3 linked regions of the Homo sapiens genome follow. Changing the gene in region 1 together with any one later gene gives a genetic interaction. Each region holds a gene or a part of one and is shown on either strand. Other genes may lie near its edges.

The links.
Region 2: changes in SAP18 (region 1) and LTN1 together harm fitness more than expected from each alone (negative genetic interaction), as found in Homo sapiens cells (one large-scale study listed by BioGRID).
Region 3: of SAP18 (region 1) and GLI3, changing one enhances a phenotype caused by changing the other (phenotypic enhancement), as found in Homo sapiens cells (one study listed by BioGRID).

What each region holds. Positions count from the first base shown.
Region 1 is NC_000013.11:21,146,255-21,149,650, forward strand, and holds the end of SAP18 (histone deacetylase complex subunit SAP18), read left to right. Parts: intron 1-550; coding exon 551-673; intron 674-931; coding exon 932-1,088; 3' UTR 1,089-2,843; downstream 2,844-3,396. UniProt on the Homo sapiens protein: Component of the SIN3-repressing complex. Enhances the ability of SIN3-HDAC1-mediated transcriptional repression. When tethered to the promoter, it can direct the formation of a repressive complex to core histone proteins.
Region 2 is NC_000021.9:28,944,266-28,947,921, reverse strand, and holds part of LTN1 (E3 ubiquitin-protein ligase listerin), read left to right. Parts: intron 1-315; coding exon 316-458; intron 459-1,634; coding exon 1,635-1,770; intron 1,771-1,970; coding exon 1,971-2,115; intron 2,116-3,325; coding exon 3,326-3,539; intron 3,540-3,656.
Region 3 is NC_000007.14:42,227,118-42,230,773, reverse strand, and holds part of GLI3 (transcriptional activator GLI3), read left to right. Parts: exon of another isoform or gene 1-3,123; intron 3,124-3,656. UniProt on the Homo sapiens protein: Has a dual function as a transcriptional activator and a repressor of the sonic hedgehog (Shh) pathway, and plays a role in limb development.

The sequences.
Region 1 (3,396 bases):
GAGAATTGCTTGAACCTGGGAGGCGGAGGTTGCAGTGAGCTGAGGTCACGCCACTGCACTCTAGCCTGGGCGACAGAGCGAGACTCTCTCAAAAACAAAACGTCAGTATGAAAATGCTTTCCTAGTACATTGATTCTAAGATACATTCCAATTTCAGAGATGCTAAAATGTGGAAGGGTACATGTCTTAGAACTAATGGGATACATCTATTTTGCATATTTGGATTTATTTGGACTAGTTACCCTTAGGTAAATCACTAGGCCATAAGGTGTTGTGTAGCAACAGAAGATAGCATATAGAATCTCTGAAGTCCCTTTTAGCACTAAGAGTCTAATTAATTGAAATTTCCAGCAGTAAGGCTGGTACATGGAGTTTTTGGAGGCAAATAGTATTTTTAGCTGCTTTAAAATTAATCTCTAGTATAAGACCCTGGCAGTTTCTAATGTAAATCACAACTCAGATATATGTAATTAACTCATTGTTAGTATCCCTTTTAATATTATTGCTGATTAATAAGCAAATGTAAATGTCTTTTTTAAAAAAAATCCAGGATGGATGCAACCTTGAAAGAACTGACAAGCTTAGTAAAAGAAGTCTACCCAGAAGCTAGAAAGAAGGGCACTCACTTCAATTTTGCAATCGTTTTTACAGATGTTAAAAGACCTGGCTATCGGTAGGTAACTTCTCATTTTTAAGTCCTGTAATCTCTTTGTTTTTAGTATGTTTTAACTGATACAGATAACTCCTTCAATGAATCTTGTTAGTGGGAGAATATGGGTTTATATTAATACGTGGTTTGGCTTAATAAAGTAGTTAAATTTTGGAAGTGTGTTATAAAATGATGGAGAAAATCCAGTGCCATATTCACTTTGTAGTACATACTGGGTTTCATTGATTTGGATCCATTAACAGTTGATTTTCTTTCTTACAGAGTTAAGGAGATTGGCAGCACCATGTCTGGCAGAAAGGGGACTGATGATTCCATGACCCTGCAGTCGCAGAAGTTCCAGATAGGAGATTACTTGGACATAGCAATTACCCCTCCAAATCGGGCACCACCTCCTTCAGGGCGCATGAGACCATATTAAATTCTATTTACTATTTGTTGAATTTATTTTTCCGTCAGTTATGTAAAATAAACATACTCTTCTTCCTCCCCTGATTATTGCCATTAAGCCTTTAAATTCTAAACAAATTATAATGCATCATCTATTTAGGAGTTAGATTTGGATGTGCTATTGTATGATTACGAATAGTCTGTATGTTTCAAGCCCTTCTGTAAAATATGAAGAAAAGTGCTCTTAGCATTCTGTGTAAAACTGTACTGTTAAATATATGTGTGTAATCAGCCTGAGTGTGAAAGTTAATGGAGGCCTGGGAACAGGGTTTATACTAAGTAGTGGAGGAGCGTATGGTTAAGCCCAAAGGGGCAGAACAAGAAAGCCACGGGATTGTATGAAATCAAACATGAGTTTGTGGTGTAGACTGCTGTATGCAGTTGGAAAGGACACGTGAGAGTGAGCTCAAGTGGCAGCAGAGGCAGTTTGGAATAAGCTGCGGCAAGTTGAAGAAGCTGTGTTGGACGAGATTGCCCCGCCTTGATCAGGGTACCATGACATAAAAGGTTAAAGAACAGGCAACACAATGAGCACTTAAGTTTTTAACATGTGGGGAATAGGGCATTTTAAAGGCTGGAACCAGTTCAGAGGAAACAAGGGTTTGGGTAGAGGTAGAAAGGTTTAATTAACCCTGGAGATCTGCAAATGGAGGGAGGGGTGAAGGAGGAATCTTAAGACCGAGGGAGAAGAGCCAAGGACAAGGTCAGGTTGAATGAGTAGGAGGTGTTCACACATCCTCTTGTGTGCTAGGTAGTGGCGTGCATCTGATCTGAGAGGCAGTAAAGCAGTGATGAAGACAGTGCAGCAGAACATTGAAGTCCTGATTGCAGCAGTGACTCTGCAACCTTGGATAAATTATTTCAATCTTTATTTTGTAAAACGGAGATAACGGCCTATAGGATTGTTAAGACTGAATATTTTAAAAGAGCTTAGAATGGTGCCTGACAAATGAGAAACAATAAATACTGATTATTGGCCATAAAGTGGTATTAAAACTGGATCTCTTTTCTTCCATGGCACTACTCTCATTTTGAAGTTTATGAACAGTACGACAGTGTATTGTAAATTCCCTTTAGTTTGTTACAGTAGCCAATTGAAAATGTATATCCCAAAATTTAAAAAAAAAAGTACCAGCAGCAATAAAATTGCACTAGTTTTATCTGGTACATACAAAAACAGCCATTTAAAATCTGATGATTCTGTGGAATTGGTGTCCCTGTTAGCAATGGCAGAGACCAGCCTGGAGCCTAGATCTGGTGCTTCTTCTGTGCTGTGGTTTACCCCAAACCTTTAGGTTGTTTATTCATTCAGATTAGATAGACTGGAGCCATAAAGTTAATTTGCACCTAGCTTTTTGGAGAATAGCCATGATTAACTGCTATTCGTGGTGGGGGTGGGGGGGAACCCTATGATTTACTATGCAGATGAAGAGGGTAGGAACTAAATAAAGGACTTTGTAAGCCAAAGTGGTTGGGCTGCTTTGTCAAATTCCACCCTTTGCTTGGTTCCAACATGGAATTTCTCCTTTAAAGATTTCAATATCCCATCAAAAGTACAGTTAGAGAATACCTAGTGAATTTATTGAATATAATGCTAAGAATCAAAAGACTTGTACTAGTTTACCTCTGGCTTTGGTAAGTGTGGCTTTGAGTAATAACTGAGCTGTTTCCCCGCATATAAAATAGAAATAAATAAGTAGTCATCATGACAGCATCTTGCTCAGTGCTTTAGTGTCTGCCCTGGTTGCCTCATTTGCTCCTAGGTATTTTGGAATTGACGTTTTCCCTTTGGAATATGTGTTACAGTACATGATATTGCCTATAATGTCTTTTTAGTTTTTCACGGTGTACAAAAACTGGGACGGTTATGCCCAGCTGATCATTGACTCAGGTAATGTTTTAGGTATCGGTTGTATGCATGTGAGGGGCAGGTGTGAATGTAGAAAGAAACATTATTAGGCTAGGTTTAAAATTCTCTAAAGTTGAACATAATAAGGAGCTGAACTTGATGCACCTCTTTCTTGTTCAATTAAACACATTTCAGACTTGTTTTTGTGAAATAGAAGGCAACACTCTAAATCAAGTTTGTAACTATGATTTAAGTGTTTACTTGTGCCAAACACAGATGGTTCCCAAGTTATGATAGTTCAACTTTAGATTTTTCAGCTTTGCAGTGGCGCATAAGCGATAAGCCATTCACTACGGTCCTCAGCTTATTATGGGGCTACATCCCAATAAACCAGCTGCCAACTGAACATCTTATAAGTAGAAAGGGCACT
Region 2 (3,656 bases), on another chromosome or scaffold:
CGCACCCCGCAATTGACTCTTTTTTTTTTTTAAAAGAGGACATAATGTCATGTGGCTAGTATAATTTTAAAAAATCATATATGGGGAAAAGTTATATATGCTCATTTAAAAAATTTATGCAGAAAAGAGAAAAGGAGCAAAAAAAACCAATTTCATCAAGTCAGCACTTGTTAAATCTATCATAGTTTCTTTTTATGTAATTATATGTGATAGAATTATTCATCTATCTTTTTCAGTAGTCTAAATAAAAGAAATATATAAAATAACTGTATGTTTGGAAGAAATCTAACTTGTGTTTTTTTTTTCTTTAAACAGTTTTTTTCCACTAACTGAAGGCAATTTGCATACCATTCAAAGTCTATGTCCATTTTTGTCAAAAGAAGAAAAGAAAGAATTTAGTGCTCAATGTATACCTGCTCTTTTGGGCTGGACTAAGAAAGATCTTTGCAGCACTAATGGTTAGTTGCTTGATAATAAATATTTCATTAATTTAATTATTGCTTGAGATGAAGAACTGTTTCTAATATATAAGACCACATCTAGCAGAGGTAAATTGAATTACAGCTGATTTGTTCTGAGATTATATGGATGAGTGTTGTTAGACAGTGGCTGTTACCATTTTACAGTACAAAAATGCTGGGCCTTAAGGGAAGACTTACGCCCAGAAATACCTTCTAACCATTTCTTTTCTATCTATAGCTTTTTAAAGCTGTGCCTCATTTCTCCCTAGCCAATCAATGATTGAACATATAAAGGCAAAAATAGCGTCTGTTGTATTTAAAACACTGCACTTTTCATTTGTTTATTAATTTAATAAACATTTATGAGCACCTGCTACATGGTAGTTCCTATTGTAGAGAAGACAAACATAAAGTTGTATTATGTGATAACCGATGTAGCAAAAAGATGTGCTATGTATAGAAGTGGCAGAAAGGAAGGAGTTTCCACTCTGCTTTGAGGGTGTTAGTGGCAATTTCACAAAGAGAAATATTTCTACTGGGTGTTGAAGGATAAATAGTTTTCCATATGGACATAGTTGGGGAAGGGCATTCCAGGTACACAAAAACATACAAGGGTACAGATTGTTCATTTTGGCTGGTATGTAAGATAGAAGGTTGGGGACAGAGGGTGTTAAGATACACCAGTGGATGGATTTTGAGGAATGGTAGAGATTCTAAAGAGTGAGTCCACATCAGAGTTTACCACATGTACTAGCTGCTATTGAGTGAATGAATGTATAAATTATGAAACAGTATGTTCTATTTTCCATTTGCTGTTTCCAGCTACTCTGTAGCTGTAGGGTTTTTTTTATTTGAATGATGAGTTTGCTGAATATGTCCTGCACTTAAGAAACCAAAACAAAAACAGCATAAGTCAGTTTAAATTACAGCATCATTCACTCTTTCTCCTCCCCCAAATTCTCTATTGTGTGCTAGGTGCTGGGTTTGGAGACAGGGTCTCTGCCCTTTGGAGCTTATAAGCTCATTTGTTGACTCTTAGATAAAAGTCATTATTAGAGTTCTTAACCTGAACACTTCTCAAGAAAGTCTTTTACTTCTCAAAGTGGACTTTTTTTTAATAGTAGCGATATAGTTCTTAAATATTTTTAATTTTCATTTTGAATTTTACTTTAGGAGGTTTTGGACATCTTGCCATTTTCAATTCTTGTCTGCAAACCAAAAGTATAGATGATGGAGAGCTATTACATGGAATATTAAAAATCATAATATCCTGGAAGAAAGAGCATGAAGATATTTTTCTTTTCAGTTGGTAGGTGATACTTTATACTATGTTTTTCCTTCAGTATACAATTCAGACAAAGATTACGTATCTGTGTCACAATTTTGTAGAGAAATTATGGTAGACATTTAAGTCAGTTATAAATAAGTATGTAAGATTTAAAGTAGCATACTTTCTAATTGAATGTCAATATAATCTTTTATTGTCTTTTGTTTTTATCTTTATCACAGTAATCTATCAGAAGCAAGTCCAGAGGTACTGGGTGTAAATATAGAAATAATCCGGTTTCTTTCCCTATTTCTGAAATACTGCTCATCCCCTTTGGCAGAGAGTGAGTGGGACTTCATCATGTGCTCCATGTTGGCTTGGTTGGAGGTAAATTAACCCGATATGTCATCACCTCTTGTGGGTTTTTGTACATACTTTTGCATCAGAACTATTTACTAATCTCATTCTTTAAGTGATGATTGTAATTGGTTCCTTTGTATAATTTAAAACACTTTATAGATGTTCTTCTTACCAGCTACTATTTGACAGAATAGTAAAATGATAGATTTTTAATGACTACCAGCATCATTCAGTGACCAAATCTCCTGTTATTAAAATGCCTTCTCCATTAGCTTATTGTAATATTTGCAGCACAGCCCTTTCAGGTTTTATCTGTTAATGACAATTATTTTGGTCTTTTTTGGTTATAATTAGATTATTTCTAAAACATACTGTGTGAATATTGTGAGAGTAATGCATTAAATAGTAGCAGATTCAGAGGGAATTAGTGTAATTTTTGACCCAAAGCAACCAGAGGTATATTACTTGTGGGCTCCAAGGCAGCAAGTCAGTCAGGGTTGGATTGGTCTGAATCTCTGCTTTGCCTGCTATTAGCTATGTGACTTAGAGTTTTAAACTTAAACTATTTGAGACTCAGTTTTCTTTCTTTCTTTCTTTCTTTTTTTTTAAATTTGAGATAGAATCTCGCTCTGTTGCTTAGGCTGGAGTGCAATGGTGCGATCTTGGCTCACTGCAACCTCCGCCTTCTGGGTTCAAGCAATTCTTGTGCCTCAGCCTCTCAAATAGCAGGATTACAGATGCCCACCAGCATGCACGACTAATTTTTATATTTTTGGTAGAGATGCGGTTTCACCATTTTGGCCAGGCTGGTCTCAAACTCCTGCCCTCATGTGATCCACTTGCCTCAGCCTCCCAAAGTGTTGGGATTACAGGCATGAGCCACTGTGCCTGGCCGATTTTCTTATTTTAAAATAATAACTTACAACTTGTAGGGCTACTGAGAAGATTATAAATGTGTATTTAATGTGTCTGACTTAGTGTTTCCTTCCATGGGTTAGAAATTAAAAAGGGTACTTGAGAATAAATTGTTTATTAATGATTCTATTCATGGTATTTAATTTTGAAGAAAAAAGTTATTTTGATGTAAAATTTTATGTTTCTCCTGAGATTACACACCTCAACTGCTTTTCGTTTTAAAATTCAAAGAAATGAAAGTGGGGCTTTTCTTTATATTGGCTTTATTTGTAGTGTTCTGGTAGAAGTCTGTTTACCTATTTCATTTTTATTGTTTTTTCAGACAACAAGTGAGAATCAGGCATTGTATTCTATTCCACTTGTGCAACTGTTTGCCTGTGTCAGCTGTGATTTGGCCTGTGACCTCAGTGCTTTCTTTGATTCCACAACTCTGGATACCATTGGCAATCTTCCTGTAAATCTAATCAGTGAATGGAAAGAATTTTTTTCCCAAGGCATCCACAGTTTGCTTTTACCTATTTTGGTGACTGTTACAGGCAAGTGAAAAAGGGAATAATAGTGAGATTGATTCATTGGAAATGACTTACTGAAAAATTCAAAAGCAAAAATTTTGATGTTTAAATCAAATAATACTAAATAGTAAAAGAAAAAGC
Region 3 (3,656 bases), on another chromosome or scaffold:
TTCCTGCAGTGCCTAACCAAGGCACGTGGGACTCATAGTTTTACAGAACTGAGAAATGGTAACAAGTATTAGATGGAGACCTCATACTCCCCTCAAATGTTTCTCATCAAGTACTTCTGGCAACAGGGGAAGAGTAGCTGATGATCTTTTCTTTTAAATACAAATGGCAGAAAAGTAAAACTGGCTCACAGAAATGTTGTTTGTGATTTTAACTGCAGTAGCAATGATTACTTTCATGTCAAATAAGCTTTTCAGTGGTTGAAGTTAAATATATGGATTTCTTAAAAGTTTAGATAGTGTTAATTTACCAAAACCAAATTCACTTAATCCATAGCCAGGCAATTATTTCCCCTTAGAGTAATTTAGTTCCCCTTGGAGTAATTCCATTTGGGTATGTCTGTCATGAATACTGCTTATCTGTGATTAGGAGCATCAGAAATGTAGGAAAGAAAGATTGAAGACACTAGGCAGTGGATTTGGGGAACCCTGAGCTACCAAATGGCAAAGCGGACAGATAGAAGCTTTCCTATTTGGAGTTAAGATTCTAGGCTTTCCTGATTATGGAAAAATAATCATATATACAGGTAAAATAATTATACATGAAAAAATGGTTAAAAATTAATGAAGATTTCATTAAGAACTTATGAAGTTGGGCTTTCCACCCCCCCCCCCCCCGCCCAACCCTTGCAGAAAAAGGCAACACAGACAGGGAAGGGAGAGGAAATGAAGCCTTAGGAATCCTGGGAACTGCTAGAGTGTCACAAAGGTTATGCATATCTAATTGATTTTGCCCTCAGAAGATATTTTGAACACAAGGAAACATCAACCACATTAAAAACCTATAAGAGGTTTTCTGTGGTGCATGAATACATGAAATCCAATGAAATGTTTAAAATTCCCTGCATTTTGCTCATTGAAACTCAGACTATTTCTCACTTCCAGAATTGATCAAAAAGTTCAAATCAACATTAGTTTGTACTTCTTGATTCTGAAAAAAAAATTCTCTTTCTAAAGGATTTATTTATTTTTGAGAAATGGGTTATTAAATAGCTACAGGGAGGTACATATCTTTAATAGTAGTTTTACCTGGATGGTTAATCCGGGAGTAGCATCTTGAAGTAGCAGTTGATCTACTAGTAATATAAGTATGAGAGCAATGTCACTCTTCAGTGCTACAGGGTAGGTTGCCTCAAAAATCCTTATGACAAGCTGCTTTCTTCTGGATATTTAAAACAGCAAATCAAGATTATTCAGCTTATGAAAATACAGGCAGGTGTAAATAAATGTTATTTCTCTGGAGGAAAACCTTCTTCCACTGGAGTAATAGTTCCCTAAACTACACGGAATAATTTCTCACTTAAGGCTGAGCCATGGTGCTGTTAATAGCACTGCCTCGCCTGGAATGTCTTCTGTTTCTGATCTCTTATTGCCAGTAGCTGTTTTAACCTATCAGAAACAGATCGGGTTATCATTAAATAGGCTTTTAACTTAGTTGTTTTAAATCTTGAAATACACTAAGAAAAAAAAGAGAAGAGAGTTTTTGCCCAAGTTTAGGCAACTTAAACCAACTGGCTTAGGGAAATAAATGAAGTAGTCTGCTGTTCAGGGAGGATGCACTATCATGATTGAAGGATGCTGTTCGACTTCACCCTACATTAGAAAGTTGTTTTATTCACTTCAAACATCATTTTAAACGTTGGCTTTGGCATGGGTGCTTTATTTTTAAACATTTTAGTGTTTAAACGATAAAGGAATCCTGCTCCCATGGGGGTTAGAGGTTTCACTGCAGAGACTTGAAAGGAGAAAAGCTAATTTTTTCTCACGTTCCCACACTTGTGACTTTTCATATTTTCTATTTACTACAGAAAGCCTCTGGTTGTTGAGGTTGAACATTGGGACTCCACTCAGGGCCTCCCTGAGCTCAAGACAATGAGGCGATGTGTCTGTCTTAGCCATTCACAGCACTTGAATCTATGTATGGCAGCTAATGAAGAAAAACACATTGGGGGCCAGGTTCATAGAAGGTGAATTCGACGTTTTGTGAGCGAAGCACACACCTATTGGTTTTGTGAAGGCTTTTCAAGGGATCCCCAATGTTTTATTATAATGCGACACTCAGGGTGGTTGCATTGCAAAGTACCTGGAAGGTTGCAGCTCCCTGAATTCAGCCAGTTAAAAGAGCCCTCTGAACGCAACCAGGGCCGGCCCTTGCCAGTGTTTGCTGGAAATTTGGCTGGGCCAACTGTAGAGTTTGCAAATGCCCGTGAATATTCCGAGGAGCAGGGTGACCACTCTGATACGCCTTGATACAGACCGCTTCTCTGCACTGGAGGGAGACTGCCAGGCGCTGCTGGCGCTGGAGCTCACCTCCCCACCCCCACATGGCCCCCAGCCCTTTTTTCACTTTTCCCGCGGCCTGGCTGGCGGAGATGCATTGTCTCCCAAAGCCAGCTTCAGAAATGCGGATCAAAGCCGGGCCTGGGAGCACCCCTTCTGCCCCCAGACACCCAGAGCCGTCTCTGAGCAATCCAGCATGTTCTGTTTGCTGGCGCGCTGACTGGGGCGCGCCGGGGCCGGGAGAACTCGGCGTGGACTTCCCCGCGCTGATGTAATGATGATGGATGCGGCGACGCGGCTGCAGACAGCGCTGCGCGGGCCCGGCGCGCCCGCTAATGAACCCACCGCGCCGCCGCCGCGGCCTGGGACCTCGGGCAGGGGACGCAGGCGCGGGCAAAAGTGGTGAAAGGCGTGAAAAACATCCCTTGCCACCGTCGGAGGAAACCAGAACCTGAAGGGAACTCGACAGGAAAGCGCAGAGAAAGAGCGAGCTTTCAAACAAAATTGGCCATACCCGTACAACCTGAGCAAAACAATTACCATAATCAATGGGGACTCGCCTTTGTAATGGTGAAAGTTTCTGTTTGGGTTTCCACTGGTCCCCCGCCCCTTGCAGGTCTAAGTGACGACTCTAAAGAGGACGACTTGAGGCGTCTGTGTGCAAGTGCTGTTTAATATGTAGGTCCCGGCAAGAATTCGCCAAGGTGGTAAAGGTTGCGGTTCTCTTGCTCGCTTTCTGTTCTCTTGCTTACTTTCAAATGCAGACGTGCACTACAGCGTCACCAGGTCAGTGGCTCCAGGAAGCTTTAAATGCCTTGTGTTGTAAGAGGTTGACGCAGGTTCAGATTTATAATTTAGAAAGAAAAGACCCACCTGCAGGCAGGTTGCAAATAGGAGACGGATTAGATTTAAAATAGGGTCTGGAATTAATTGTGCCCTGGGTTTAGGCCTCGGGGAAATTACAAAAGGTTCAGGGATAGTTGAGTGGGAAAAAGCCTTGACTGTTTGCTTTCAGGAAGGAATGTTTATCCCTCCTTTTACCTATGAAACTTCAAGCTTTAGGAAGGATATACCATTAGAGCAATTTTCCTTGCGTTGCTTTTTTTTTTTTTCTTCACCGAGCTCCTGGGACTCAAACATCAGCTACAAACATTTTTCCCCTTAAGCATGAAAAGTCAAGGGGCATGCCAGCAAATCTTGCATGTAATGTTTCAGTGGTGAAAGGGATTGAAGGAGAACAGTGTGGAGTCGTAAGCAAGGAAACTATGTCGGGGGAAAAAGTATCATTTCATTCACATCTGAAAAACAGTGGCATGTTT